Regions from separate parts of the Homo sapiens genome. Here regions 1, 3 and 4 are each linked to region 2. Evidence: fine-mapped expression QTL. A gene starts in region 2. Each other region holds a variant in brackets. All regions are shown on one strand. Distances are from middle to middle. Region 1 has its middle 12 kb from the start of MSGN1. Region 2 holds the start of SMC6 (structural maintenance of chromosomes 6). Region 3 overlaps LOC105373449 (a long non-coding RNA gene). Region 4 overlaps SMC6 (structural maintenance of chromosomes 6).

The links. PIP is the estimated chance that this variant, and not a neighbour inherited with it, causes the effect.
Region 1: its variant is the best candidate, but not a certain one, in a credible set for the expression of SMC6 in lung (TOPMed, PIP 0.56).
Region 3: its variant is the best candidate, but not a certain one, in a credible set for the expression of SMC6 in unexposed skin (GTEx, PIP 0.61).
Region 4: its variant is the best candidate, but not a certain one, in a credible set for the expression of SMC6 in blood mononuclear cells (TOPMed, PIP 0.74).

What each region holds. Positions count from the first base shown.
Region 1 is chr2:17,800,611-17,808,335 of GRCh38, forward strand. No RefSeq gene overlaps it. Among named protein-coding and RNA genes, the nearest start is that of MSGN1, 12 kb to the right of the region's middle. The variant A/G (reference allele first, on the strand shown) is at 4,152.
Region 2 is chr2:17,750,166-17,757,890 of GRCh38, forward strand. SMC6 (structural maintenance of chromosomes 6) reads right to left here and starts at 3,645. Exons shown (of 28, transcript NM_001142286.2): 1 at 3,461-3,645; 2 at 2,813-2,899. GEN1 (GEN1 Holliday junction 5' flap endonuclease) reads left to right here and starts at 3,973. Exons shown (of 14, transcript NM_001130009.3): 1 at 3,973-4,180. RefSeq lists silencers at 3,121-3,480, 3,621-3,760.
Region 3 is chr2:17,790,471-17,798,195 of GRCh38, forward strand. The region is part of intron 3 of LOC105373449 (a long non-coding RNA gene); the gene reads right to left. Among named protein-coding and RNA genes, the nearest start is that of MSGN1, 22 kb to the right of the region's middle. RefSeq lists a silencer at 1,092-1,386. The variant G/A (reference allele first, on the strand shown) is at 3,354.
Region 4 is chr2:17,669,835-17,673,834 of GRCh38, forward strand. It overlaps SMC6 (structural maintenance of chromosomes 6), which reads right to left. Exons shown (of 28, transcript NM_001142286.2): 26 at 589-741. Among named protein-coding and RNA genes, the nearest start is that of SMC6, 82 kb to the right of the region's middle. The variant A/T (reference allele first, on the strand shown) is at 1,636.

The DNA.
Region 1 (7,725 bases), 50 kb after region 2:
CCTCATGAGACTGTTGTGATGCTCCAAAGATGTAATCGATATGATAATCTTTTACAAACTATATGACAGCATTCTTGTACTATTAATTATTAAGGTCCTTGTTTCTATGTTTAAAGTGAAAAAATTGCTAGAAAATATAGGACACTACAGTAAGCTTCTGTGGGCATCCAGATAATTGGTCACTGAGAACTGGAGGAGGCAGAGTGTTTCTGGAGAAAACAGTTGGCCCTGGCTTAGCGGGAGTGGTAGAATCTGAGAGGTCAAGGGAGAGGAAGGGACAGTTGAGTGAGGGACACAAGCCAGGCAAAGGCCAAGAAAAGAAAATGTGGTATATGGACAGTGTAGCATTATCCTGGAATCAGGCAGAGAATGGGCCTGGGGACCAGGAAGACATAAAGTTGGAAGAGTTGGGATAGGCCAGACCAGAAATAGTCTTAAATGGCAGGCAGAGAATTTATCAGGAGAGATTTTAGTAGTATGAAAAGTCAAGGAGTTATAAAAGTGTAACAATCACCTGGTCCTGCTCCCTGTATCTGTGGTTTTATCTCTGTTTAACAATCTAGACAAAGTGGCCAGCCCTGGGGGTGCTGTTGGCATCCTGCCACCCAGCTCAGTGCTCTTGTATCCTGGGAGGCCTTTGTTCTGTCCAAGTCATCAGTTCTTCACTAGAGACTATTAAAACTGCTGTTGCAAAATTATTACAGTGAAAGAGATCTGACCTAACCAACTCAACTCCATCTTGCTTCTAATCTCCAAGCTGTCCTTGTTCATTCCTGGACATAGGCCAAACTAACTTTGGGAGGAACTTAGTTTATAGTTTAACTTTGAAACAAAGACAATACTACTCCTTTCCTGAAACAAATCCCTTTCTTGACTGGGGACTAGACTGCCTTTGTAGGACCAAAAAGTTAGCCAAAAGATTCGAAATTATGGTTTAGGAGTCATGCAGCTGGAGGCTACAAGTTTCCGACCCTCCCCAAATTGGTCCCGAGAATAATATCGCTATTGTAAGACCTAAAATTAGTACTTGAGATATTTTGTAGACCCTGCACTTGATGGATCAGCTGGCACCACCCAGATTGATAAACTGGCTCATCTGATCTGTGGCCCCTACCCAGGAACTGACTGAGCGCAAGAGGACAGCTTCGACTCTCTCTGACTTCATCTCCCACCCAACCGATCAGTACTCCTGACTCACTGGCCCCTACCCACCAAATTATCCGTAACAACTCTGATCCCTGAATTCTGAGGAGACTGATTTGAGTGATAATAAAACTCTGGTCTCCCGCACTGCTGGTTCTGTGTGCATTACTCTTTCTCTATTGCAATTCCCCTGTCTTGATAAATGGGCTCTGTCTAGGCAGTGGGCAAGGTGAACCCTTGGGTGGTTACACTACCAGGCCCCAGCTCTGACTTTACCAAGTCAGAATCTCCAGGAGAGGAGCCTAGGAATCCTCTTTTTTTTTTTTTTGAGATGGAGTCTCGCTCTGTCTCCCAGGCTGGAGTGCAGTGGCAATATCTCGGCTCACTGCAACCTCCGCCTCTTGGGTTCAAGCAATTCTCTGCCTCAGCCTCCCGAGTAGCTGGGATTATAGGCACCCGCCACCCCACCTGGCTATTTTTTTTATTTTTAGTAGAAACGGGATTTCACCATCTTGCCTAGGGTGGTCTTGAACTCCTGACCTCGTGATCCACACGCCTCGGCCTCCCAAAGTGCTGGAATTACAGCCATGAGCCACTGCACCCGGCGGAACCGTCTTTTTAAAAATATGCTTTCCCTCTCCCCAGGTGATTCTTGATAGCAGGGAAGTGTGGGAATGCTGTGAATGTGAACTCTATGATTCCCTACAGCGAGAGGCTTATCCGTGGGCTTCATACCTGCTGGAGATGGAGGGTAACCACTCAGTCCACAAGGGGCTGAGCATAGTTCTTCAACTGCTCAGTAGCTACACTTCTGGGATGGAAAAGACTGGAACTTTTTTTCATGAAACAACATTTCCTCTCTTTCATCTTTCTTGTTGTCCTCCTCTGAGTCTCTTCTCCACTTCTTTCTACTCTTTGCAAATGAAACACGGAACTCCAACAAGGTCTCAGCAAACCTTATATCCTACCTGTCAATGTCCCAGTCATCTTTACAGGAGCACTTCCACCTGAAGCTCCTCCCTCCCTCCCTTCCTTCCTGCCTGCTTTTTTTTTTTTTTTAAATATTTAAATAAGTGTACTACCCATATGCTTTGATTCAACTTGAGAGCGCCTGTGATTCCTGAATCTTTTTCATTTGCACATGGACCTAATCAGGCCAGCCTTGACCATTCACTGGTTTTGAAATTCTAATTTTTAAATCAGTAATCTTTTTTAATTTAGAAAATACTGACAACTGTCAAGACGATAGCAACAATTGAGTACTGACAATGTCTGAGGGCAGTAGTATGACATTTCTTTATGTATATTGATCTTTACAACAATCTTGTAAAGTAGCTGTTGTTATTATCCCTTTATTTCAAGTAGAGGAACTGAGACATTAAGAAATGAAGTTACCTGCTTATAATCACTTAGTTAAGTAAGCAGAGAAGTCAAGGTTGGAGCCTAGGAACTCTGGCTCCTAACCACTAGAAGAAAGTAAGATGAATGAAGAAAAAAATACTCTCAATTCCTGTTACCAGAAGTAACCACTCTTAACACTTAGTCATATTTCTATGAGAAAGAATTTTCAATTGGATCAAAGTATTAATTTTATATGTCCTACTTAAAAGCCTTAATATTAAATTAAGCTTTGTATATTAAATGTTATTCATAATGATTTCTTTATCAACTATATAATATTTCATCATATGAATAGGAAATAATGTATGCAATTACCTCTTTGCTATTAGATATTTGTTTCTAATTTTTTACTGTAAGACTATGGCGAATATTTTTTATCCTAAATATTTGACTGTAACTTTGTTTAGTTGTATAAAGTCCTTGTGTCAAAAGTACTTTTGAATCTAAGATGAATTTTGGACTTTAAGTTACTTTAAAAATTGAACCAACTGACTCTCCCACAAGCAATGTGTGGGAAGGACCACTTCCTCATCCTCTTGCCAACTTTGCCAATTTGGGAGGTGAAAAACGGCCTTGCCTTGTCATTTCCATTTACATGTCTTTGATTACTACCGAGGTGAACATTTTCTTCTATGTTTATGAGCCACTTGTATTTCTTTTTCTGTGAGCTGTTTATTTATGCCCTTGTTCATTTTCCCAGTGGCAAGCTTGTATTTTTCTTATCTGTGTGAGTTCTTCATAGCAATAATGTTTTACCTGTCATGTTTGACTATCCCGTATCAAAAAACTGAAAAATATTTCCCCCAATTTCTTCTTTGCCTTATATCTGCTTTTTAGGTGTCAGTTAACTGGCAAGTATGGAAATCTGAATTGAAAACACTCAAAAGCAAAGGCTAAAGTTTGTGAAAATAAGCAGGTTCATTATGCAGACAACCATTTTTAGTATTCACTTTAATAACAGGACTTTTGTCATCACTGAAGAAAAATGAAGAAGTAATGTTGCACTTTTCTTCTTCTCAGGCTGGTAAGAACAGGGGAGAATCCTTGGAGAACAAACTCCGTGCAAATTGCTTTCAACTTTTTGACATGGGTATTAAAATGCCACCCCAAATACCAGTGGTAATAAAGAATCCAACTTAAAAGGGGGAGTAGGTGTAAATGTAACACATGAGATTTCATTTAAATCTTGCTGGCCAGTTGCTGAAGAATCCATGGAGAAGCACTCAAGGCTGCTACCCCTCCCGAGTTGGTGACAGAAAACTTGGCTATTTGGGGATAAATGTTGACATTCTGAGATTGCCGAATCAAGACAAGCTGCTCATATTTCCTTGCAATAAGAATAATCACAGCATCCTGCCCTGATGCTCTCCAGGGAGAATGAGCTTCTGTTCCTCTTTTTATTACCCTCTTCCTCTTCTCTTATGTTTCTTCACCCACACTTTGCAGTCCCCTCTCTGCCACCCTCCTATCTTCTGCATAACTGCCCATTGTGGGTGGACATGGTGACTGCATTTTGTTCCCAAATTAACATATTTAGTAATATTTTCAAAAGAGAAAGAGGTTTATATTCAGGTGCCAGGGACCCCGCAGGGACATGGCTGCCCCCA[A/G]ATGGATTCTTTTTAGAGTAAACCACGCTGCCTTGGCTTCTGTGCACATTCATTTGGCAAAGAAAATTCACAAGGCATTTGACTGTGGAGCGAGCTGATGAGACAGGGTCCTGAGCCCAGACAGTGGAAGTGCTTGAGAAAGGGAGCATCCCAGGTGTTTGGGAGGGAGAATGCTGCTTTTCCTCATGACCACCTAGTGAAGGGGATGAAGAAAAACAAAACTTCTGGTCAGGCTGGAGAAGTCCACAAGACTCTGTTCTAAAGGATTTCTACAGTTTAGAACTCTTCTGTTTCTCACTTCTCCTGTGAATTAAGTTTAATTATTTTGTTGCCGTTTATTTGTCTGTTGCTTTGTCCTGCCCAAGGGTTAAATACCCAGCCTGTGAAAATCATCTGTTCACACATTGCATGATGCTCTACAATTTATTATTAAATGGATCAAAACCAAAATGTTACTCTTTGGCTTTACAATGAGCCATAAAGTCAAATCACGAGGCCCAACTACTTTTATTATTTCCTTAGCATAATGGCAGTCACATGAAAGTCACAGTCCCAAGAGCCTCACACAGGCTTTGCTGAAACTGTCACAGGCTTGACAGCACAGCAGCTCCAGGCCGCTATCCATGCAGGAGAGCACCACTTTCAGTTCTCTTTGCTAACTCAAGGACACAGGAAAATGTCACATTTCACTTAGTTGTTTTCTTCACACATACACACACACCTATATTCCCTTTGCCCCACAAGAATTATCTATTTTCTGGTGAATGTTAGCTGAGTGCCAAGACTGTGTGGCAGTGTGAAAGGGCCCAGGTTTTTAACTTTTTTTTTTTTTTTTTTTTTTTTGAGACAGAGTCTCACTCTGTTGCCCAGGCAGAGTGCAGTGGCATGATCTCGGCTTACTGCATCCTCCGCCTCCCATGTTAAAGAGATTCTCCTGCCTCGGCCTCCCAAGTAGCTGAGATTACAGGCGCTGGCCACTACACCCTGGCTAATTTTTGCATTTTTAGTAGAGACGGAATTTCACCATCTTGGCCAGGCTGGTCTTGAGCTCCTGACCTTCAGTGGTCCACGCATCTCGGCCTCCCAAAGTGCTGGGATCACAGGCATGAGCCACCACTCCTGGCCCAACTTATGTCTAACTGTACACACACAGGCTCTGTCCCATGACTGGAAGGCCAGGGCTGGGCTGGCCAGTGGAGTTCTGTATGGCTGTGGCTATAAGAAGGTACTATGGAGTGTACAAAAGTCAGGGGAGTGTGTAGAGCTCAGGGTGGGCAGGAGCCCCCACAGCAAAATACAGCTACTGAAATCAGGGTGCACAGAGCCAGCAGGGTCTGAGTGTCTCAGAGACAAGCAGTGAGGGCAGGGATGGGCGAGAGTACTGCAGCTGGCTCTCGGTGTGGCAGCTGCAGAGCCGATGGGTGTGGCTATGGTTTGGAAAGAAGCTGTGTCCCATGACCTTGGGCAAGGTCCTTAGCATCTGAGCTTTGCTTCTTCCCTTGTAAGATGATGATAATGCCTACCTAACTGGACTGTATGGAGGATGACATGAGTGAATGTATGCAAGGCCCTTATTTTTAGCTCCTAGCATAGAGTACGTGCTGTAAGTACTCAAAAAATGGAAAGTGTATTACTGTTATCAATATTAATATACAAAAGGATTTTATTTTTAAAAGAATGTTCTATATAAAGTGTTTAATTCTAGGAAAATATAATTAAATATCACCTTTACCTGCTGCTTGATAATAATAATAATGTGGCCTAAGGCCAGGGAAAGCACTAGAAGTGGTAGGGAATGACAGCTGCCTTCTATTCTGGAACTGCAAACCCAAAGATGTAAAGCAACTACAAACCTCACAATGAGGGGTCCTTCCAAAATCCTCGTTCACCTATCTCCTCTCTCGGAACATAACATCACTCGCTGAAGTCTTGTGATCCTGGGGTCAGACTGCCTAGGTCTAAATTGTGCTCTTCCACTTACAAATCTGGTCACTTGGGGTAACTTTTTTTTTTTAACTTCTATAAGCCTCAGTTTTTTCTTATTTAAGGTGGGAACAGAAGGCTGGGTATGGTGGTTCACACCTGTAATCCCGACACTTTGGGAGGCTGAGGTGGGTGGATCACTTGAGCTCATCAGTTTGAGACCAGCCTGGGCAACATGGTGAAACCTCATCTCTACAAAAAAAAAAAAAAAAGAAAAAGAAAAAAAATTAGCTGGGCATGGGGTCACATGCCTGTAGTTTCAGCTACTTGGGAGGTTGAGGTGGGAGGATGGCTTGACCCCAGGAGGTGGAGGTTGCAGTGAGCCGAGATCGTGCCACTGCACTCCAACCTGGGCAATAGAACCAGACCTTGTCTCAAAAAGAAAAAAAAATGAATAAAGAAAAGGAAAAAAAAAGTAAGATAGGAAAAGAAATAATATTTTTATAAGATTTAAATGGAGCACTTAGTAGCACTTAGTAGTAGAGACATTTATTATTATTATTGCTATCATAGCTGAGATAACTGTGGGGATGGCCAAGGAAGGCGGTGCCTCTAAAGATTACACTATTTCTCAGAAACAGCTTCATACATACAGCTTCACTGGAGAACCAATAGAACACTCAAACACCTTCCCCCAACACACACGAGCACACACAAACACAAATACACACACGGCACTCCTTCAAAACTATAAGAGTCAGGCCTGTTCGCTAACCAGGGCAATAAGTAGTTATGTGGACGCCTGTCATGTCCAACCAACCATCTAATTTAGGAATGATGATAGAAGTCTAAACCTACTTAATCTTTTTAGTACCTATAGGACCCAGGACTCTGGCTAATCTCAGGTGCTCTGTACACACTGGATACATGACTGAATGGGGCCAAGGAATCAATCAATCAATCTTTTAGGATTTACCAAGTCTCAGGTCAAGCCTGAGTTCCAGCTTCAACAGCTTTGCAGGGCCCATCGTGCAGATGCCTCCAACTGGTGGGTAAAAGCCTAGGCTCCAGTCAGCCTGCCTAGGCTCTCATCCTGGGGCCTTGGGCAAGTTACTTAACTCCTCTGTGCCTCAATTTCTTATCAGTAAAACAGGATTGGTGATGATAATAGCACCTACCCCTTAGGGTTGTTGTGAGGATGAATGTGGGTTCATCTGTGCTAAGCACCTGGAATATTACTGGTGCACTCTGCCTCTAGTCGTGCTCCACGGGTGATGATTAATTTTATGTGCCAACTTGCCTGGGCCACAGGATGCCCAAGTAGCTGGTTCTACATTATTTCCAGGTGTGTTTGCAAGGGTATTTTCAGGAGAGATTAGCATGTGAACTGGTAGACTGTGTAAAGTAGATACTGTGGGTGGGCATCATCCCCTCAGGGCTTGAAAAGAACAAGAAGACTGAGGAAAGTTGAGTGGTCTCTCTGCCTGACTCCTTAAGCTGGGACATCAATCTCCTGTCCTCAGTGGTTTTCAGTGCTCCTAGTTCTCCGGCCTTCAGATCTTGACTGGAATCTACACCATCTGTTGCCTCTCTGGCTCTCAGGCCTTTGAACAATACCACAGACTTTCCTGGGTATACAGCTTGCAGACAG
Region 2 (7,725 bases):
CTGAAAACATCCTGTGGCTCAATATAGAAGATAGATGAAACAGAAAGTAAGAATAGTAGCAGAAGAGATGAGTTGCTAAACAAAAGCAGTGGTAATATCAGGGACAAAGGGAAGAGATAAAACAAGAGATTTAAAAGACTGAATTAGTAGAATTGGTGAGTACAAATGGGTGAGTAGAATTAACATCTGCTGAATAACTACATACTTAGCTTTTGAGATGAACACTTTCTATTTCCTTTGATCCCCAACATCTTTATGAGATAAATATTGCCCTTATTTTTACAAAAGGAGAGACTGAGGCACAAGTAAATGACTTGAATTTATGTAGCTACAACTTAGTTCTAACATACAAAGGCTTCTATAGCTCTAACATAGCAGAGCTCAGATCCAAATCCAGGTTTGTCAAAACCCAGTTAAACCTCTTTAACGCCCAGGTTCCTACTGGCATAAACTGAAGTTTGACAGTTAATTATTCATAGAGAGTGAAATTGGCTATTAATCTGTCCTTCATCTCGTCTATCCTTCATTAAACTTAAAAAAAAGATTCTATTATTGGCTGGGCGGGTGGCTCATGCCTGCAATCTCAGTACTTTGGAAGGCCAAGGCAGGCGGATCACCTGAGGTCAGGAGTTCGAGACCAGCCTGGCCAACATGGTGAAACCCCATCTCTACTAAAAATACAAAAAAAAATTAGCTGGGCTTGGTGGCGCATGCCTGTAATCCCAGCTACTCAGGAGGTTGAGGCAGGAGAATCACTTGAACCTGAGAGGCAGAGGTTGCAGTGAGCCGAAATCATGTCACTGCCCTCCAGCCTGGACAACAAGAGTGAACAGCTGTCTCAAAAAAAAAAAAAAAAAAAAAAAAGATTCTCTAATGTTACTATTAAAGTCAATCAAAACTTTGGGTGTGCTTTATAAAACTTCATTTTGTGTTTCATCTTCACACTTAATACTAAATGCCATTATAAGTTCATGGAACAGGTTTGGCAAGTAGGGAGAATGAAATTTATTTTATTTGAAAACACTGAGTTTGGGCTGGGCTCAGTAGCTCACGCCTTGTCATCCCAGCACTTTGGGAGGCCGAGATGGATGGATCACTTGAGGTAAGGCGCTCAAGACCAGCCAGCCCAACGTGGTGAAACCCCATCTCTACTAAAAATACAAAATTAGCCAAGTGTGGTGGTGCATGCCTGTAATCCCAGCTACTCCGGAGGCTGAGGCAGGAGAATCGCTTGAACCCGGGAGGCAGGATTGCACCACTGCACTCCAACCTCGGCGACAAGAGTAAAACTCTGTCTCAAACAAAAAAAAAAAAAAAAGAGGAAAAAAAAGAAAGAAAGAAAACACTGAGTTTCAAGTGCTCCTAAGGTATTTTGAGATAGAGGCCAGTCAGTAGTAAAGGATACTCTGCAATGGAGAAAGATTTGTGGGTGGAGCTAAGGAAGCTACTGGAAGTAGTTTGAATTTGGTGACCAAGAAAAGCATGCTCAGAGAGAAAAGATGTTAACTTGTTTAAATAGTGAATCAAAAATGCTAACATTAACCTAAGCAACTACGCTTGACCCTCAGTCAGCTGGACTTATCGTTGTGTATAAAGAACTATGGCATTTAATTGTGTCTTAAATATAATGCAAGCTATCACGGTAAAATTTTGAGTTACTTACTAATTCCTAAAAGTAAGCCAAGTACAGCTTTAATTATTTTTCCTAACTTTGGTCTAAAAATGACAGTCAAGATTTAGGTAGGTTTTACATAAAATTCTACAGATTCAGTAAAATACACTCAGTAAAATAAACCTTTGGGGAATAAAACTTGTTTTTCACTGTAATACCTTTAACATGACTTGTGTACTTTTTGCCAGGCTCAATACTAACTGGTTTATACGGATTGCAGACAGATGTCGATATATAACTACATAACTTTCTCTTCCTCTCTGTGTCCACATATTTAAGAATCCTGTCAGCTAGGTACAGTCAATCCCTAAGAATTGGTTCCAAAATGACAGCCCCTCTCTCTCACTCAGATACCAAAATCCACAGATGCTCAAGTCCCTTATATGAAATGGTGTCATATTTGCATATAACCTCCCCACATACTTAAAAGTTATCTCTAGATTACTTATATAACCTAACACAATGCAAATGCTATGTGAATAGTTGTTATACTGTACTGTTTAGGGAATAATGACAAGAACAAAAAAAAGTCTGTGCAACCATCCACTTTTTTTCCTCTGAAATATTTTCAGTCCCTTGATTGAGTCCACGGATACAGAGGATGCACTGATAACTGTATTATTTCTTCCAACTTGCATAAGAAGAACTGAAACTTAAAGAGGTGGTACCAACCTGCTCAGAGTCACACAATTCTGGCTTTTTGTGATATAAATACACGCTTTTAGGCAATATACTAGTGGCCTCCAAACGTTTTGTACTTGCACCCATTAAGCAAAAGAAATTTGAAATACATGTTCCAACATAAAATTAATACCCTATGTTTCACGTAGAAATCAAATGAAATAAATCTAAATAGAAGTTCTAATATGTTCCCTCTCTACCCACACACCCATGGAACAAACTGCATGCCACTGTATATACTATTGTACATGTTAAAAGATCACACTGCAACCATATAAAAGTCAGGAGATTTGGGTTTTTCTTTTTTCCTTTGAATATATATTACTGAGAAGTTTGCCTTTAAAACACTGGCTTTTAATCTACTACTCGTGACATATGCAGAGTAATAAGCGCTCACAAAACTTCTGTCTTGAGGGCTCAAACACCAAATGATTGCTCTAAGAATTTTCACAGTATTACCTCAAACCCTATTGGTTCTACAACCTTTCTCTACCCTAGAGTCCTGTTTTCCGCAATTCCCAATTGGGATTCTTCTCCGGTTCATTTCTGTAAGAAATGAGGGCAGAGAAATGCCATCAGTAAACCTTTGAACACATGTTAATTTTTCTAGGTAATACAATTTGCATTTTCGTAAAACTGGGCTTTAATGACAAATCCGATTTCAGTGATCTTTGCATACACCCTTTAAACACACCAGTTGCCGCCTGCGAGATATCATCAGACTCATGCTAAGAGCCACTCCCTACCCCAGCTTTCCCCAGACCTCTCCCCGCTTTACAGTTATTCGCCACAGCCCGGGAGAGTCTGGGGACGGCCGCCTGGGAGGGGACGGCCGCCTGGGAGGGGACGGCCCGGAGCAGACGCCAGGTTTCCCGCGGCTCAGGAGACCGGTGCCGCCTCGGAGAGCGCGCGAAGGTGCCGCCGGCCGCCCGACCCGCCCGAGGAACGGACATCTCCCGCCCGGGCCCGCAAGGACGACCATGAACACCGCCGCAGCTCAGCTGACCCTGCCTCTCCCGGGTGGCTGGGGGTCGCCAGCCAAGGGGGCAGCGGGCGGAGGATGAACCCCGGAGCAAGGGAAAGCGACAGCGCGCGCCTTCACCCTACCGCCAACAAGTCGAAGTCTCCCAAAGGAACCTGATCGGCGGGGCTGCCGTGGTACGACCGGCCGCTAAGGCCACCCTGCGGGCGTCTCGACCTCGGCTGACCGCCGCTGGCCCCCTGGGAACCGCGTGCCGGCCGCAGGAGAAGGTAGATTCCCGGGAGCCCCGGCGCCCACCGCGGTACTAACCGCGCCTGCGCCCCGCCCTCCCTCCCTTCGGGCTCCGCCCGCGCCTGCGCAGTTGCGGGGTTTCGCGCCGCCGGAGTCTGAGAGGCCGGAAGTGCCCCTTAGCGGGTGGGGGAAGCTGGTAGGCACGGGCGGCTCCGCAGTGACCGGACTCGGGGGAGGTGAGTGATTTGCCTAAGTAAAAGGGAAAGATAATTGAGCGCCCCCGGCAGCTGGTCTACGCATGCGTCCGCTAGGCCGGCTGGGAGCCGGCAAGGGAAAGCCGAGCGGGCCCCATTGGGGGAAAGGGGTCAGTCACTTCCCGGAAGAGGCGGGGCCGCGCGGGCCCGGCGCTGGATTCGAAACGCTTCCTGGTGCTCCTGGGCCTGGCGGTTGAGCCCGGGGAGCTAGTCTTTGCTTGGGTAAAGAAAGAGGACTTTCCTTTTTTTTTTTCCTTTTGAGAAAATTCAGAAATTTGGAGGCACAGTAGTTAGGATTCAGGCCAAACTGGTAAATGACGAAGGGGCTTCTTCCAGAGCCAAGGAGGAAGGGTTGTCCGGGTAAGTCCCGCGGGACGTGGAGAGACGGCGCCGCCCGGGTCCTCCCACTGATTCCTTTGACCATCTGGCTTACGGACGAGCTCTTTGTTCGCTGCTCCTCCGAAAACGCCTTCAATGACTCCCTTTGAATAAAGTAGGAAGTCCGAACCGAGCCGCCAGGCCGCGACTTGGCCCCTGTTTTCCACTCGCGAGGGCCCTGCGTCACCCCGCCTCGGGAAAGCTGCGCGTTCTCCGGCCGCTTGCGCTTGGCCGAAGCTGCTGGGTCCCGCTGTGCTTCCCCCGGGCATGCGATGGGGATAATTCCCACGCCTCGCTCAAAGCCATCCCGGGAGAGCCCTCCCTGGTCCCCATAGGCACAGTTGGGTGTTCCCTTTTCCGTGTTAACCTTGTATTTCGGATATAGTTCTGTTATAGTAATTACTTTAAGGTATTGTAGTTATTTACAATCAGTCTTTCCCCCACGGTAACCTAGAGTGTAAACCCCCTAAATAAACGTCAGAAGTAATGAAGTCTTAACTTCCTTGGCTTAGGTTTCAGCGCCCTTCTCAACCCCACACTCCCGCTTCAGTCTTTACACAACCCTTCCCATGAATATGCTGACCTAACAAGTAACCTACTTTTCATACTCCAAAATCTTCTCTTCTGTGTGGGGAAAATAATGCATTGACTGCCACCTCACTCCACCTCCAAATAAATTGATGTTGAAATTCTGGCCTCCGGTAATGGAATTCTTTACATCAAAGTCACTTTTTATTTCTAAAAGTAATCACATATATATTATATTCCTACTGTGGCCCTTGCCATGGATCAACGAAAAATATGACATAGTCAAAATAGACCAAAACATCTGGCCTTGTTGTAACCAATGGGAAACACGGTTGGGAGGTCCCTACTTACATGTCACTTGCTTCAGGAACCGTTCCTTGATTCCTAAGTGGGGGACCTTTTTTCCTAAATACAACTATAGCTTGCTTTCTTACCTCTTAAGCCCTTTTTATCTGCAGTCTCACTTACCCTACTAAGGTCTTTAAATGCAGGGCTTGATCTTCCATTATTGTATCTCCAGCACCTATAAAGCTTTCCTGTTAAATAGTAGACATTTAATAAGTATTTATTGATAAACGTGAAGTATGCCTCAACGTTTAGGCTAAATTCATATGAAAATAAAATTGAAAAAATAATTTTAAAGAACAGCATTAGTTACTGAGATTATGTGGTAAATCCCTTAAAATATAATCTTGCATTGAAATAGTTTTCACCATTTACCAGTCTTTATATGAATATATACTCATCTAAATGGAAATTGGGAAATTTAAGCATTTTCTGCTTTTCCGAAGTAAATTTTCTAATGTTTTTCTTAAAGCTGAACTAAATTGCAAAACTTGCTTTAATAAAGTGTGTATTTTTGCATCAGTTAAGCCCCTGACCTCTTTATGTTCTTTAAATTTGATTCATTAGTGAAATTAACAAGGTTCTGTGTTTTTCTCACCTCATTCAGTTTTATAATTAACCAATAAAAGCTTATTAGCTTTTAAGGAAGTTTTAGGAACTTAAATTGATTTATGGGCACCATATGGTTACATCAAAGGACTTGTTTTTGTTTTAACTGGAAGTGGATTCTTAAGTCCTTTAAGATGGAAATTTATGTTCTTTCTATTATACCAAGCAATACTTTCTGAAATAGAGTGATTTTTTTTTATTCCATGCTACCAGTTGGTCATGCAATTCAAATATTAAATACTAGATTACAGATATTAGAATCTTGTAATGCATCTGGTTTAATACCTGTCATTTTGTAGAACGGTTAAATGTCTTCCCAAGGTCATACACCTAATCAGTGGTATATTCAAAACCCAAATCCTAGGCTTCCTATCTGAAGTCCATTGCTTATGAAGTGGTTTGCTATGTGTTCTGACTTTGTTGATTCAAATAAGTAAGCTAAATCAATTTAAGCCATTAATAGGTTTATAAAGTTATTTGCTATGTGTTGTTCTTACATCATTGATTCATGTAAGTAGACTTGTGTGACAGCTAATTCTTAAAAAATTATGAAGATGTTAGACTTCTTTTGATATATATATGTTGATTGTATGAACAGATTGACATCAATATACTTATTCATTATAAAAGATTTGAGTGGGAACTCACCAAATCCCACACCAAAAAAATTTAAAATTTTACCATAGTAAAAAAAACTAAAAAGCAAGATGAAATTATACATAGTTCTTGGTGTAGTATTTTTAATTTTTATTATTTATTTTTATAGAAATGGGGTCTCACCATTTTGCCAGGCTGTTCTCAAACTCCTGGCCTCAGGTGATCCGCCTGCCTCGACCTCCCAAAGAGCCAGGATTATAGGCATGAGCTACCATGCCCGGCTAGTGTAGTATTTTTAAATTTTACTTAATGCTGAGCCATTTTCAAATAACCTCATCACATTGATTATGACCTCATGCAAGAACCATCTGTTCTATCTTTCAGTGTAGTTGTACTTTAATATCTTAGAAGCTATTGCATTCTGTCCTTTTTTGGAATGTTTTATGCTTTTACAGTCTTAACCATTGCTTCTTAATATCACTTCCGCGGAACAGCTGGTGCAAAGAACATGTGATAAGGAATGGAAAACAATTGATGATGGAAACAGAGATTTGGAGTTAATTGCGTTCTTAAAATATTATGATGTTCTTTCTAATAAAATGTACATTTCACATAATTTTCCTCTTTCAGAACTAACCATGGTTAATCATTCTTTAAACCAGGTTTGTTTCCGACAAAAGAAATGAAATAATAAAAACTAAATTCTAACTGTAGTAATCATGTGATATTAAAGATATTATTTATGGGGTTAAAAGCCCTCTTTATCTTGCTTAGGGGTTTCCAATAATCGAATCAGTGCTGGACTTTTTTTTTTTTTTTTTAGGCATGGCTGCCCCCTGTTAATAATATATTTAATTAACAGCTTTACACAATGATCTTAATATACTTGAAATACTTAGAGGACTGCAGTTTATAAAATCAAGAGTCTACCTTATTGCTGTTTTATTTTTTTTTTTACCATAACCCTCAGAAGGAATACAGTTAACATCACAGTCCTATATATAAATGTGTGTTTATGTGTGCCATCATAAACATCACTGCACTAGGTGGCAATCTTCACTACTATTCATTTGTGTATGTGTAGTCAACCTACGAAAGGAATCATTAGAAACAGGGTAGGAATGTTGAACCTTAGAACCGGAAGTTGCCAGAGAAAATATGTGCCCTGGCCAACTCCACAGGACTAGTTCTAGGCAATCTGAAGGAAACCAGAAAATGTGAATTTCTCTTCCCTCAAAAAGCTATACTGAAGTAGTATTTAATATTCAAGTACTTGTAAATTTGCAGAACAGTACTTTTTAATTTGACCCATGAATTCTATTTAAATTTGTCACTTAATATTTAGCCAAGAAGCAAACCATCTAAAAAGATTTCTGGTTTATTTCTCCAACTCCTAATAAATAGGGTCACATATTTTTTAACTTTTTTCTAATTTGAAAAGTAATACA
Region 3 (7,725 bases), 40 kb after region 2:
ACTCCAGCCTGGGCAACAAGAGCGAAACTCCGTCTCAAAAATAAATAAATATATAAATAAATAAGTTAATTAAATAACTATTAAAGTCAACATTGTAGGAGGCTGGGGGGTTTTCATATGAAAACCCCCAGAATGAAGATGAGGGGGACAGGCAGAATTCCAGTCATTTCCTTACTCTCCAAAGCTCTAACCACAGGGATGAGTCCTCTGCAAGTTCTTAGTGGTGCATGAGTTAAGAGTGTCTCCTTTTTAGTGTTCATGTCTTAGTTGAATCACCTTTGCACAGTATCTGCAATGAGCCAGGCCCCGTGCTGATCATGTTAAGTACATTTTTTATTCTCTTGAAAGCAGTCCAGGGAAGGAAAGCAACATGCCTGAGGTCACACTTAGTACACAAATCTCCCAGTTACCTTTGGAGGTAGCATTGCTACTCCAAAGTACCATCTTTCTTGCAGGAACTGCTAAACAGCCTTCCAGTTGATCTTCCTGCTTCAAAATGCTCGTGCCTTTCTGTTGTGCACATATCAGCAAGATTAATCTATTGAAAACGCAAATCACATACTAACCACCCCCTGTGTAAAAGCGTCCCATGGCTTCTTATCACCCTCTGTAAATCCCAGCCTCCTCAGCAGCTGTGGCTACCTGTCTCCCTCACCTCATCCTCCGTCGCTTCCCCTTGCTCCCCTGGCCCTTGGCACATGGCTTGCTTTCTTTCCTTAAACATACCAAGCTTACTGTACACTCTGGCTCTTGCCATTGCTGCCCACTCTGTGTGGACTTCCCACAGACCTCTGGATGGTAAGCTGTTTATCACCACCGAGGTCTCAGCCTCTTGGCTAGTACTTTTGTGAGCACGTTAGCTAAGTAGCCACCTCCCACTCCTACCACCACTCCTTCACACTTGCCTCTCACCCTGTATTATTTTCTTTACAACTTATTAGATTTTTTTCTTTGTCTCCTATCACTAGAGTAACATAACAAGAGAATAAACTTTGCTTTACTCTTTGTTGTATTCCCAGAGCTTTGAACAGTGCCTAATATGCAGTATGCATTTAATACATACTTGTTCAATGAATAAATCAAGTTAGCTTTTCAACCCAAATCTATGTAAAGACAAAGCCCAGGCTTTGACCACGAACATGCTGCAATTTTTTATTGAATTCTTAAGATGGATTCAGTCCTGGGACAGGCATACTGCCAAGTACATGGGAAAACATCTGCTTCCTCCCTTCAAGATGTTTATAAGTTAGTTGTGATGCCAGACTCATTTATTCTTGAGATAACAAATACAGTAAGTGCTGAGTGAAGGGAAATGTATCAGAGGGCACCAGAATGTAGAAGAGAGTGGTCAGTGAAGATACAGGTGGTCCTTATAGGGCCTCCTAGAGCTGAGAAACTTGATAGGAGCCTTTTGTGGTGGATGCCAGTTAGGGGGAGGGTAAGACTGTCAGGTCTTGGATGAGACTTAGAGAATCAGTGAGTTTATCCAGGAAAGAGTCATCAATGACATGTGTTTTAGGGCATTCCAGAGAGGGACATTTGCTAGATACTTTTTTCTGGAAAAAAGCCTCACTCTTTACTTACAAGTATAGTTTTATGAGAAAACGCGGGCAAGAGAAGAGGAAAGGAGGAAAGAGAAAGCAAGGCAGTGAGGTTTCTTCTTTCTCACTCTGGCCATGGTTGTGGTAGGGGCAAGATGGATCGAGACTGGCACACAGTGAGTGCCAGATAATTATTGGCCCACTTACTCTTGAAGGTCTCCTCTGTGGGACTTTCCTGGAATTCCACGCTCTCTCCAGAAATAAATGGCCAACTGTGGGACCTAGGAGGCTACCTCTTTAGGGCCAGCAGTAAGGCAAAGCTGCCATGCAGCATAATCTGCCCAAGTGATTGGACTGCACAGACCCTTGGCCATTGGAAGAGACTGCACCATCCCAGAGTTTCCCAGAGGGCCACCATCATGAGGATTGCTCCTATCATGGCTCCCAGTGAAGGATAGAGCAAGGAGACCCCTGAGAACTAAATTGCCAGCCAGTGAAGATGACTTACTATGCTCAGAATTAACATTCATCCATCCACCACCCCATCCATCCATTCAGGAAGCAAATACTCTATGCCAAGAATCTTGCAAACTGTAGGAGCTATCACAAGGGTTAGATAGTTTCCTTTCCTTGAGGAACTCATGGTCTACTCATAAAGAAAACCATATGCTGTTAGTTTCTTAACTCTACCCATGTTTCCAGGGCAGAGTTGAATAAAAGATTTATCACATACCCAGGCTTGGCCACAAAACCACACCACACGAAACCAAAACACTCCATGAAGGGAAAGACTAATTAACCTTCCCACCCCCCCACCCCTCAAGCCCTTCCCAGAGAGGTGATAATGAAAGATTTGGTCTCTACTGAGCCACAACAGGATTTGCATTTTAAAGTTTGACAGATCTTTATAGGCCTTTTGATCTCTTTTCTGCTCTCTACCTACCCACCCCAGACTTGCTGCCTCCTCCCAAACCCCCCTCAGTTCTCTACCCTGAACAAGCTATAAGCTTCAGAAATGATGGTCCCAGGTCCAGAGGCCTCTAGGATATGTGCCCTGGTGTAATGTGCTCCTAGCCATATAGCTCCTATTTATTGAATATCAGCTGTATATCAAGTACTTTTCTTCCTAACCCGCACAATCACCCTGCAAGGTTCATATTATTTACCTTTTTTTAAGTGAGGAGGAAAATGAGGCATGGAGGTTAAATAACCTGCTCCAAATCACTAATAAAAAGTAGGAGCGACAGAACTAAAACCTAGGTCTGTGCACCGCCAAACCTATAACCTTTTCATTAAGCCACACTGACTCCATTAGACAATACTGGTTATTGTAGGCTATCGTAACTAAATCCTTCTTGGAAAGGTAATCCTGCACTCCAGTTTTCTTGCAGGTGTTATTCTGGAAATAGCCCAATAAACGTCACAATTTGATTTACTCGAGGACAAACTTGCAGCTGTCTTTTCTTTTAGAGCTCTTCTTGAGCTCTGACTTTTTCCTCTCTTTCTACTCATCTTTCACACAGACTACTGCAGCCGGACAGCTGCATGTCTTGGTTTGGTACTGTCATCTGCAGCCTCCTGGGCTTTGTGGAACAGTCTCTCCAACCCAGAGAAAGCCTATTGGAAACAAACTCAGAGTCTCAGATACTTATATTTTTGCAGCTGGAGGGAACCCAGAAAGCCATCTAAAACTGAGTTTCAGAGAATGACTAGTGCAAAATAACTGGTATCAGATTTACTAAAATACTGCAGCTTTGCTATGTTAAAGTAAAAGAAGGAAACAAGTCACATTAACAAATATTTCAATGTGCC[G/A]GGTGCTTTATCTCATTTAATCTTCACTACAACCCAGTGAGGTAAAATTAGTTACTATCCTTGTGCTCCAGATGAGCCCTGACTCAGAGACATAACTGACTCTACAGTGATAGCTGGCAAGACCAGGACCTCAGGTAACCGCAGAGAGCACAGACCCTCTTCCACACCGTGCGGTGGGCATGAAAAGGCGCACAACCAATATGCTGGCTGGTGACTGACTGGCCTGTGAAATTTGCTCCTGCACAGAAGAGCAAATCATTTTGCACTCTTAGTGAGGCCATGCCTGTAACCTAAATTCATCTGGCATTCACAGCCTGAGTCATACATACTTTGACCAAGAGGGCCCCTGAAAAATGGGGGCTACAGCCTCTGACTACAGCCTCTCCTAAAACATTCTGAGTGTGTGTTACCAGTTAGAAGATTCTGCAAGTTTCTTTCCTCCTTGGAAAGTCCATCCCCCACCCTCAAAGAGGGGGCATTAGAAGTGCCAAATTGGGAGCCATAAGAAAGCCGCTGCTGGCTGCTGAGTTGTCCTGTCGAGGTTGAGAGATCAGGTTCAAAGCTCCAGCCGCAGTCTCCCCGCCCCCACTCCCCACCCCACCTCTTGTCCAGAGAAGGAATGGTCCTTCCCACCCCCCACCATCATTTCTTGTAAAAACTTCTGGATTGTGCTCAGCTGGGGGTCATACAGGGAGCTCAAGGCATCCTTTCTGCTCTCTCCAGATCGACCCCAACCTCAGAGAGGAAGCTCTTGGGAAAGTTTCTCTCTAGGAAGAATGGCTACGGATGCAGAAATCTTCCCTCCTTAGCACCCAGCATAGATTTTGGTGTGGATTGGGCTGCTCCTAAGAAAGCTGTTTTCTCAGTGATTCTCTGTCAACCATGCAGCTGGGGTTCCAGCATTCAGAACAACAGGGGTGGGAGGTAATGCTGGGCCTGTGGCTTCAAATCTTACCCAGCAAGCCCTGGCCAATTGTTCTTTATGGTACAACTCACAATCCATTTCTATTATAGCATTTTTCTTGACTGTCTGTCCATACTAACCTCATTCTTCTCTGAAAGGATACATACCCACATATAACTATTGTGAGACCAGACTGTTCCCGAATGGCATTTGAGTTGTGCCTTGGGGGACACCTTGACCTCCTACCTAAGGAAATTTTTCTGCATCCTGATATTCCCCATTCTGGAGCATATAGTTTACTTGCTAATGACAGTTACTAAAGATGCTTACCTGACATAATTTTGCTAGCATGCCAATTGGGGAGCAAGCACTCCTATTAGGAAGCACTCATCTTCATTATTAATCCCTTCTGTAGCTCAGCCTTTTTAGATCTAGATCTCTAAATCTTCCCATATCTATAGATCCTATATCTATAGAACTATATATCCTAGACCTATAGATCTAGACCTGTATCTCCATATCTTCTCACCAGTAAAATTTATGTGGGCACATACACCATTTTTGTTGCATGCCTGAAGCTCATTCCTGGTCTCTCTCACGCTGACTTCTCTTCTAGACAGTGAGCTCCCTGGCACAGGGACCTTGTCTGGTTCCCTGTGTGCCTCCAGCACATAATGGGGTTTCTGCTCCTGCGAAGAAGCTAGGTACCCTCTGCCGCAGTAAGAATGGCACTGAGTGATTGCACAACTCAAATTGAGCTCCAAGGCTGCACACAGGGCAGAAATGAGAGAGGGTAGGACGATGAGTTTGACCAGCATTGAAAAGGGAAACACCTTGGGAAGGAACAGCCTGTACTGGATCAGGTGCCAGGTAAGTAATCCCGGGGATCATAAACCTCTAAAGCAACTGCTCTCAAATGTAGCCTTCCTAGAACTCATCTGAAGACTCTGTTATAAAAACAAATTACTGGGTTCCACCCCACTGGATTCGGATTCAATGGTCTTTGGACCACACTTACAGAAACTCTGCTGTAGATGGGAGAGAGATGTAGAGAGCCGCAGAAGAAAAGGAGAAGAAAATAATGGTGTTTTTTGAGTATAGACTCACTCACCACACGCAGTCAGGATAACAAACTCTCTCCCCGTCTGTCCCCCTCTCTGTCATTCTTTCTTCCTCCTTTTAATACTGTAGTTATAAAAAGCTTTTGAAAGTATAAAAAGCTTTTGATCACTGTCCAGAGTGATCAAATATTCGCCCATGGCGAATTTTTTCTTTCACTTTTTTTTTTTTTTTTTTTTTTGGAGGTGGGGAATCAGTACTCCTGGCAGAGGCCTGTCACTTTGTATGCAGGAAGGGCCATTTAACAAGTAACTTAGGTGGTAACTGAGGAAACTACAAGCCTACAAAGTCCTTCTTGTTCTGCCTCCACAGGGGAAATGGCTGACCCACCTAGGAGCCCACGGCATGAGCTGTTTTTTCCCAAGCTCTGCATTTCAGGTGCTTCCTGCTCAGTGCTTCTCCTCAAAGAACATACAAGGACAGGAGGTACCATGGCTACCTGCAGCTGTGGATTATGGAAAGCCCACTGAGGCTGGCCTCTCAAGGCCCAAAGATGACCATTTGCACCCAGCATTTCCAAACACAGTTTCCCAGACTGGGATCAAATGAGCTATAAGACAATTGCTTGAAGAACTCTGGACGAGGATGTCTGGGCCTCACCCCAGTGACTCTTGGCTCATGAGATCTGAGACAAACGCAGGAATCTATACCAGGTAATGATGGGCAATTGGATTTGGAAACCAAATCCAATTGGAGGACAATAGCATCACAGAATCTGTTTGGGTCCTCCAGCCGGCTGAGGTCAAAATCCCCATCCTACATCCGGGTAAAAGGCCTCCAGGCCTTTTTCCTACAATCCTATATGTCAAGACCCAGTTCTGATGCCATTTTTTCCAGGAAATTTTTCAGGGTCTCCCATGTGAAATTATTTCTCCTTTCTTTCTCCTCCCACAGCATATTTTCAGTGTCTTTATAATACTTTATAGCATCACCCCTCTCCTCATATAACATTTATCCACCACCATTGTGGAATAGAAATATAATGCCAACTGATTCCTCAAGGATCTAGAACTAGAAATACCATTTGACCCAGCCATCCCATTACTGAGTATATACCCAAAGGATTATAAATCATGCTGCTATAAAGACACATGCACACGTATGTTTATTGTGGCACTATTCACAATAGCAAAGACTTGGAACCAACCCAAATGTCCATCAATGATAGACTGGATTAAGAAAATGTGGCACATGTACACCATGGAATACTATGCAGCCATTTAACAAAAAAAGGATGAGTTCATGTCCTTTGTAGGGACATGGATGAAGCTGGAAACCATCATTCTCAGCAAACTATCGCAAGGACAAAAAACCAAACACTGCATGTTCTCACTCATAGGTGGGAATTGAACAGTGAGAACACTTGGACACAGGAAGGGGAACATCACACACCGGGGCCTGTCGTGGGGTGGGGGAAAGGGGGAGGGATAGCATTAGGAGATATACCTAATGTAAATCATGAGTTAATGGGTGCAGCACACCAACATGGCACGTGTATACATATGTAACAAACCTGCACGTTGTGCACATGTACCCTAGAACTTAAAGTATAATAAAAAAAGAAATATAATGCCAACCATATATCTTTACTTTTCTGTTAGCCACACTTTAAAAAAAAAATAAACAGGTGAAATTAATTTCATACTATATTCGATTTAACACGATATTTCAAAATGTTATTTCAACATGTAATCAATACAAAAATCATGAGTGAGATATTTTATGTTTTTGTTTTGTTGTCTTTATTTCTTTTGAAATTTTTTTTCTTTTTATGTAGTTTTAAAATCTTTTTATGATATTTTACATTTTTTATTTCTACTAAGTTTTTGAGATCTAGTGTGTATTATACACTCGCATCACATCTCAGCCTTGAGACTTCATTTCACATGTTAAATCACCACACGTGGCCAGTGGATGCCATGTGGAAGAGCACAGTACTGGCTTTTGAGGTCATGTCTGTGACTTGGCTCTGGGTCCTCAGACTGAGCACAGTCCCTTCCAAAGAGTCTCCATTGGTGTTTTCGTTTGGCTAGCTATTTTAAAGCTCAGGATCTTAGGATATAAAAGTAGGGAAGAGATACATCAGTTTTAAGGAGGGTGAAGCTGTCTGGGCATGGTGGCTCATGCCTGTAATCCCAGCACTTTGGGAGGCTGAGGAGGATGGATCACCTGAGGTCAGGAGTTCGAGACCAGCCTGGCCAACATGGTGAAAGCCTGTCTCTATTAAAAATACAAAAATTAGCCGGGCGGTGGTGGCACATGCCTGTAGTCCCAACTACTCAGGAGGCTGAGACACAAGAACTGCTTGAACCTGGGAGACGGAGGTTGCAGTGAGCCGAGACCATGCCA
Region 4 (4,000 bases), 82 kb before region 2:
TGAGCCTCACTCTAACCATGAGAGGTAGGAATTGGTAATAATATTGTTTTGTAGATGAAGAAATTGAGACCCAATAAGTAGAGATATTTTGCCTGTCAGAGGTAGGTCTCAAATCCTATGCTTTTTAACTGGAAATTCAAAAGTTCTTGCTCGCTTATGTTCTGTACATTGTTCTGAAATGTGTGGGTATGAAGGAACAGTAAACAGTGGCTAGGGTGAGTCAAAGCCAGGGTGGTGAACAGGTTATAATTTTGTATTAAAACAAAAAGTCTGAACATATTTATGGGTTGATGAAAATAAGCTGGGAGAGAGGGTGAGGGAGAAAACGCAGATATGATGGAAGGCACGGATATCCATGCTGGGCGAGAAGAGGAGGACCCCTCCAGGGTCTCTAGGGTTACTGTGTGCCTAGAAGCAAGGGAGAGAACTCTAGTTCTTTAGTTCTTCCCCACTACTGGTCACAGACTAAAGAGTCAGGGCAGGATCTTTCCTGTTAGGGGTAAAACTAAAGAAAGATTTCCTTCCTTTAGAAATACATGTTTCAAACAAACAAAAAAATGAAAAAGAGAATTTAAAATTTAACAATACCATGTAGACATCAAATTCATCCAGGCATCTGAAAGGAGATTCTGCGATGGACCACAGGGAAAGAATAAAACACACTGTGGAGAAAGAACGTTCACCTCCAGACAAGGCTCTCATGTCATTGAAAGCAGCTTTATTTCCTTCTCCAGGCTGAACCTTGAAGAGAATGAGTTGACAAGGAACAAAAAACTAAGTAAATGAAAGGCCAGATTAAATTCTTTACAAGACAGATAAATAATAGATTTACAGTAAAAAGGAGATGGGAATAAAATGACTTAGTGATTTGGAAATACCCATTCCTTTCAAAAAATTTTACAGTAAAACAGTTATACGTATAATGGTACTTCTTGCTCTACTGCAAGAGAATAAAACTGAAAACCTTTTTCACCATAACTGAATCTAACAGACCAAAATTCCAAAGGCTAATTTAAAAAATGTTAATAAAACAATTTTTTTTCTGAAACAGGGTCTCGCTCTGTTGAACCAGGCTGGAGTGCAATGGTGTGATCTTGGCTCACTGCAACCTCTGTCTCCCAGGCTCAAGCAATCCTCCCACCTCAGCCTCCCAAGTAGTTGGGACCACAGGAGTATGCCACCACGGCCAGCTAATTTTTGTGTTTTTTTTTTTTTTCTGGGTGGAGTTGAGGTTTCTCCATGTTGCCCAGGCTGGTCTTGAACTCCTCGGTTCAAGCAATCCTCCCATCTCAGCTTCCCAAAGTGCTGGGATTACAGGTGTAAGCCACCACACCTAACCCTGAAACTTAAGCTTCAAACATTTAAAAGTGCTGAGATTTTTTGTTACTTGAATTATAGTGACACCTAGTGGTTAAGCTGCATTAAAAGTGATTACTGAACGTCAAAAGGACAGAAATCAACTTTAAAAAGCTTACACTGGCCAAAGAAATGCATTGAAATATATCTTTTAAAAGATTTAAAGGATTGCTTTAGGAATCCTTTAAAGGAACCCTAGAAGTTCGAGACCAGCCTGGGCAACATGGGGAAACCTCATCTCCACACACACACACACAAAAATACAAAAACTAGCTGGCC[A/T]TGGTGGCATACTCCTGTGGTCCCAACTACTTGGGAGGCTGAGGTGGGAGGATTGCTTGAGCCTGGGAGACAGAGGTTGCAGTGAGCCAAGATCATGCCATTGCACTCCAGCCTGGTCGACAGAGCGAGACCCCGTCTCAAAAAAAAAAAAAAAAAAAAAAAAATTTCTTTTGTATTGTATTTATTTTGAATTCTAAATAAAATCTTTTAAAATTTAAATAATTTTAAATTTCTTTTAAAAGCTAAATAAAATCTTTAAAAAATTATTTACTAAATAAAGGTCCATGGAAACAATAAGAAAGCAACTAATAAAATTAACAGCAAATCATTCACACAATTTCCTGAGAATATACAATAACATTAGGAAGGGTTCTATTTTTTTGACAAAATTCCAGATATACATATATGCATACAAGGTGAAAAAAGAGCAACAACTAGTTTCATATCAATAGCAGACATATAGCTTCCAATACTTTTCAATTCACTGTTTGAAAAGTGATACTGCTCTCAAGTGAGCATTCATTTATTTTTTAATATTAACATTATTAATATTCTAAGGTAAATATTCCAATTCTAAACATACTCTAAAATTTTACACCTATCATAAGTCTAAACAAACCAAACCAACAATCAAGCAAATAAAAATTCCCATATAAAAAAGCAAGAACTAAATACCAAGATGCAATCTTGCCCCCACACTGTATTTTGCACCAATTTAATAAATGAAGCCCCAAGTAAATCTGGGGGATCTAGCTTTTACCCTCTCATCTATTACTAACATATCATGGAACTTCAGTGTCACTTTCCTTATTAGTAAAATGAAGGCCACATAAATTAAAGATTCTTCTGGTATTCTTTTGAAAAACAGAGATGACAACATCAGAAAGTCTAGCTTGAGTTGTTTTGTATAGTTAGCTGTGGAGATAAATTATTCAAGCACTTCTAATACTTTTTTTTCTCCATTTTTTTATTACAGTAATAGTTTTTATAAAGAACACAAAAGTGTACAACTCAATTTTTACATGAATACATACACACACCTGGGTAACCACTACTGAGATCAAGACACAAGAATATCCCCAGCATCTAAGCAAACTATTTGTATATTACCATCCCTGAAAAGGTAACTATTATTCTGATTTTAATCACCCAAAATCACTCTTAACAGTTTCTGAACTTCATATGTAGAGGTTACACATACTCTTTTGTACATATACTTCAGATTTATATACACTATGTACATCCTTGTAACTGGCTTCTCTCACTCGCCATTGTCAGATCATCTATGTTGTGTGCAACAGCAGTTTGTTATTTTCATTACGGAACAGTATGTCGCTGTTTGAATATACCCGAATTTATCCATTTGACTCTAGGTAGACACTGGGTTTCTCAGTTTTGGGCTATGATAAATAAAACTTCTTTGAACATTTTCAAATATATCTGTTTGAGAAAATAAGCACTAATTTTTTCTTGGGTTTATGCCCAAGAATGGAGCTGCTTTAACAGACATCGACAGAGAGGTTTCCAAATTAGTTTGACCAAGTTACACTCCCACAAGCAATATATGAGAGTTGCAATTCCACATCCTCACCAGCACAAAATATTGCCAGTCTTGTTCATTTTCATCATCATCATAACGGTGTGACAGTAACTTACTGTGGTATAAATAATATTTCTCTGATGACTAACAGCGCTTTTTCATGTGTTTACTCACCATTTAGATACTTTAAAGTGGTTTCTATTTAAGCCTTTTGACTATTTTAAATGTGATGTCAGTCTCTTTCTTACTATTTTTTAATTCTAGGTAAGTCTTTTGTTGCATGTATGCATCACAAATATCTTTTCCTAGTCTGTAGCTTCTTTTATCACTTAATGTTACTTTTTGATGAAGTTCTTAATTTTAATAAAGTCCAAATTATCAATCTTTTCTTTTGAGTAGGTTGCTTTTTGTGTCCCATTCAAAAAAACATGAAGACATTCTCTTCCTCTAGAAGCTTGTTTTAAATTTAGGTCTATGATCAACTTCTAAATTACTTTTTGTATATAAAGTTAGGGGGTCAAACTTTGCTTACTGTTTATTATTTAAAAAAAAATTTTTTTTTTTAAATTTTTTTTTTGAGACAGAGTTTCGCTCTTATTGCCCAGGCTGGAGTGTAATGGTGTGATCTCGGTTCGCTGCAACCTCCGCCTCCCGGGTTTAAGCGATTCTCCTGCCTCAGCCTCCCGAGTAGCTGGGATTACAGGCATGTGCCACCATGCCCAGCTAATTTTGTATTTTTAGTAGAGATGGGGTTTCTCCATGTTGGTCAGGCTAGTCTCAAACTCCCCACCTCAGATGATCCACCCACCTCAGCCTCCCAAAGTG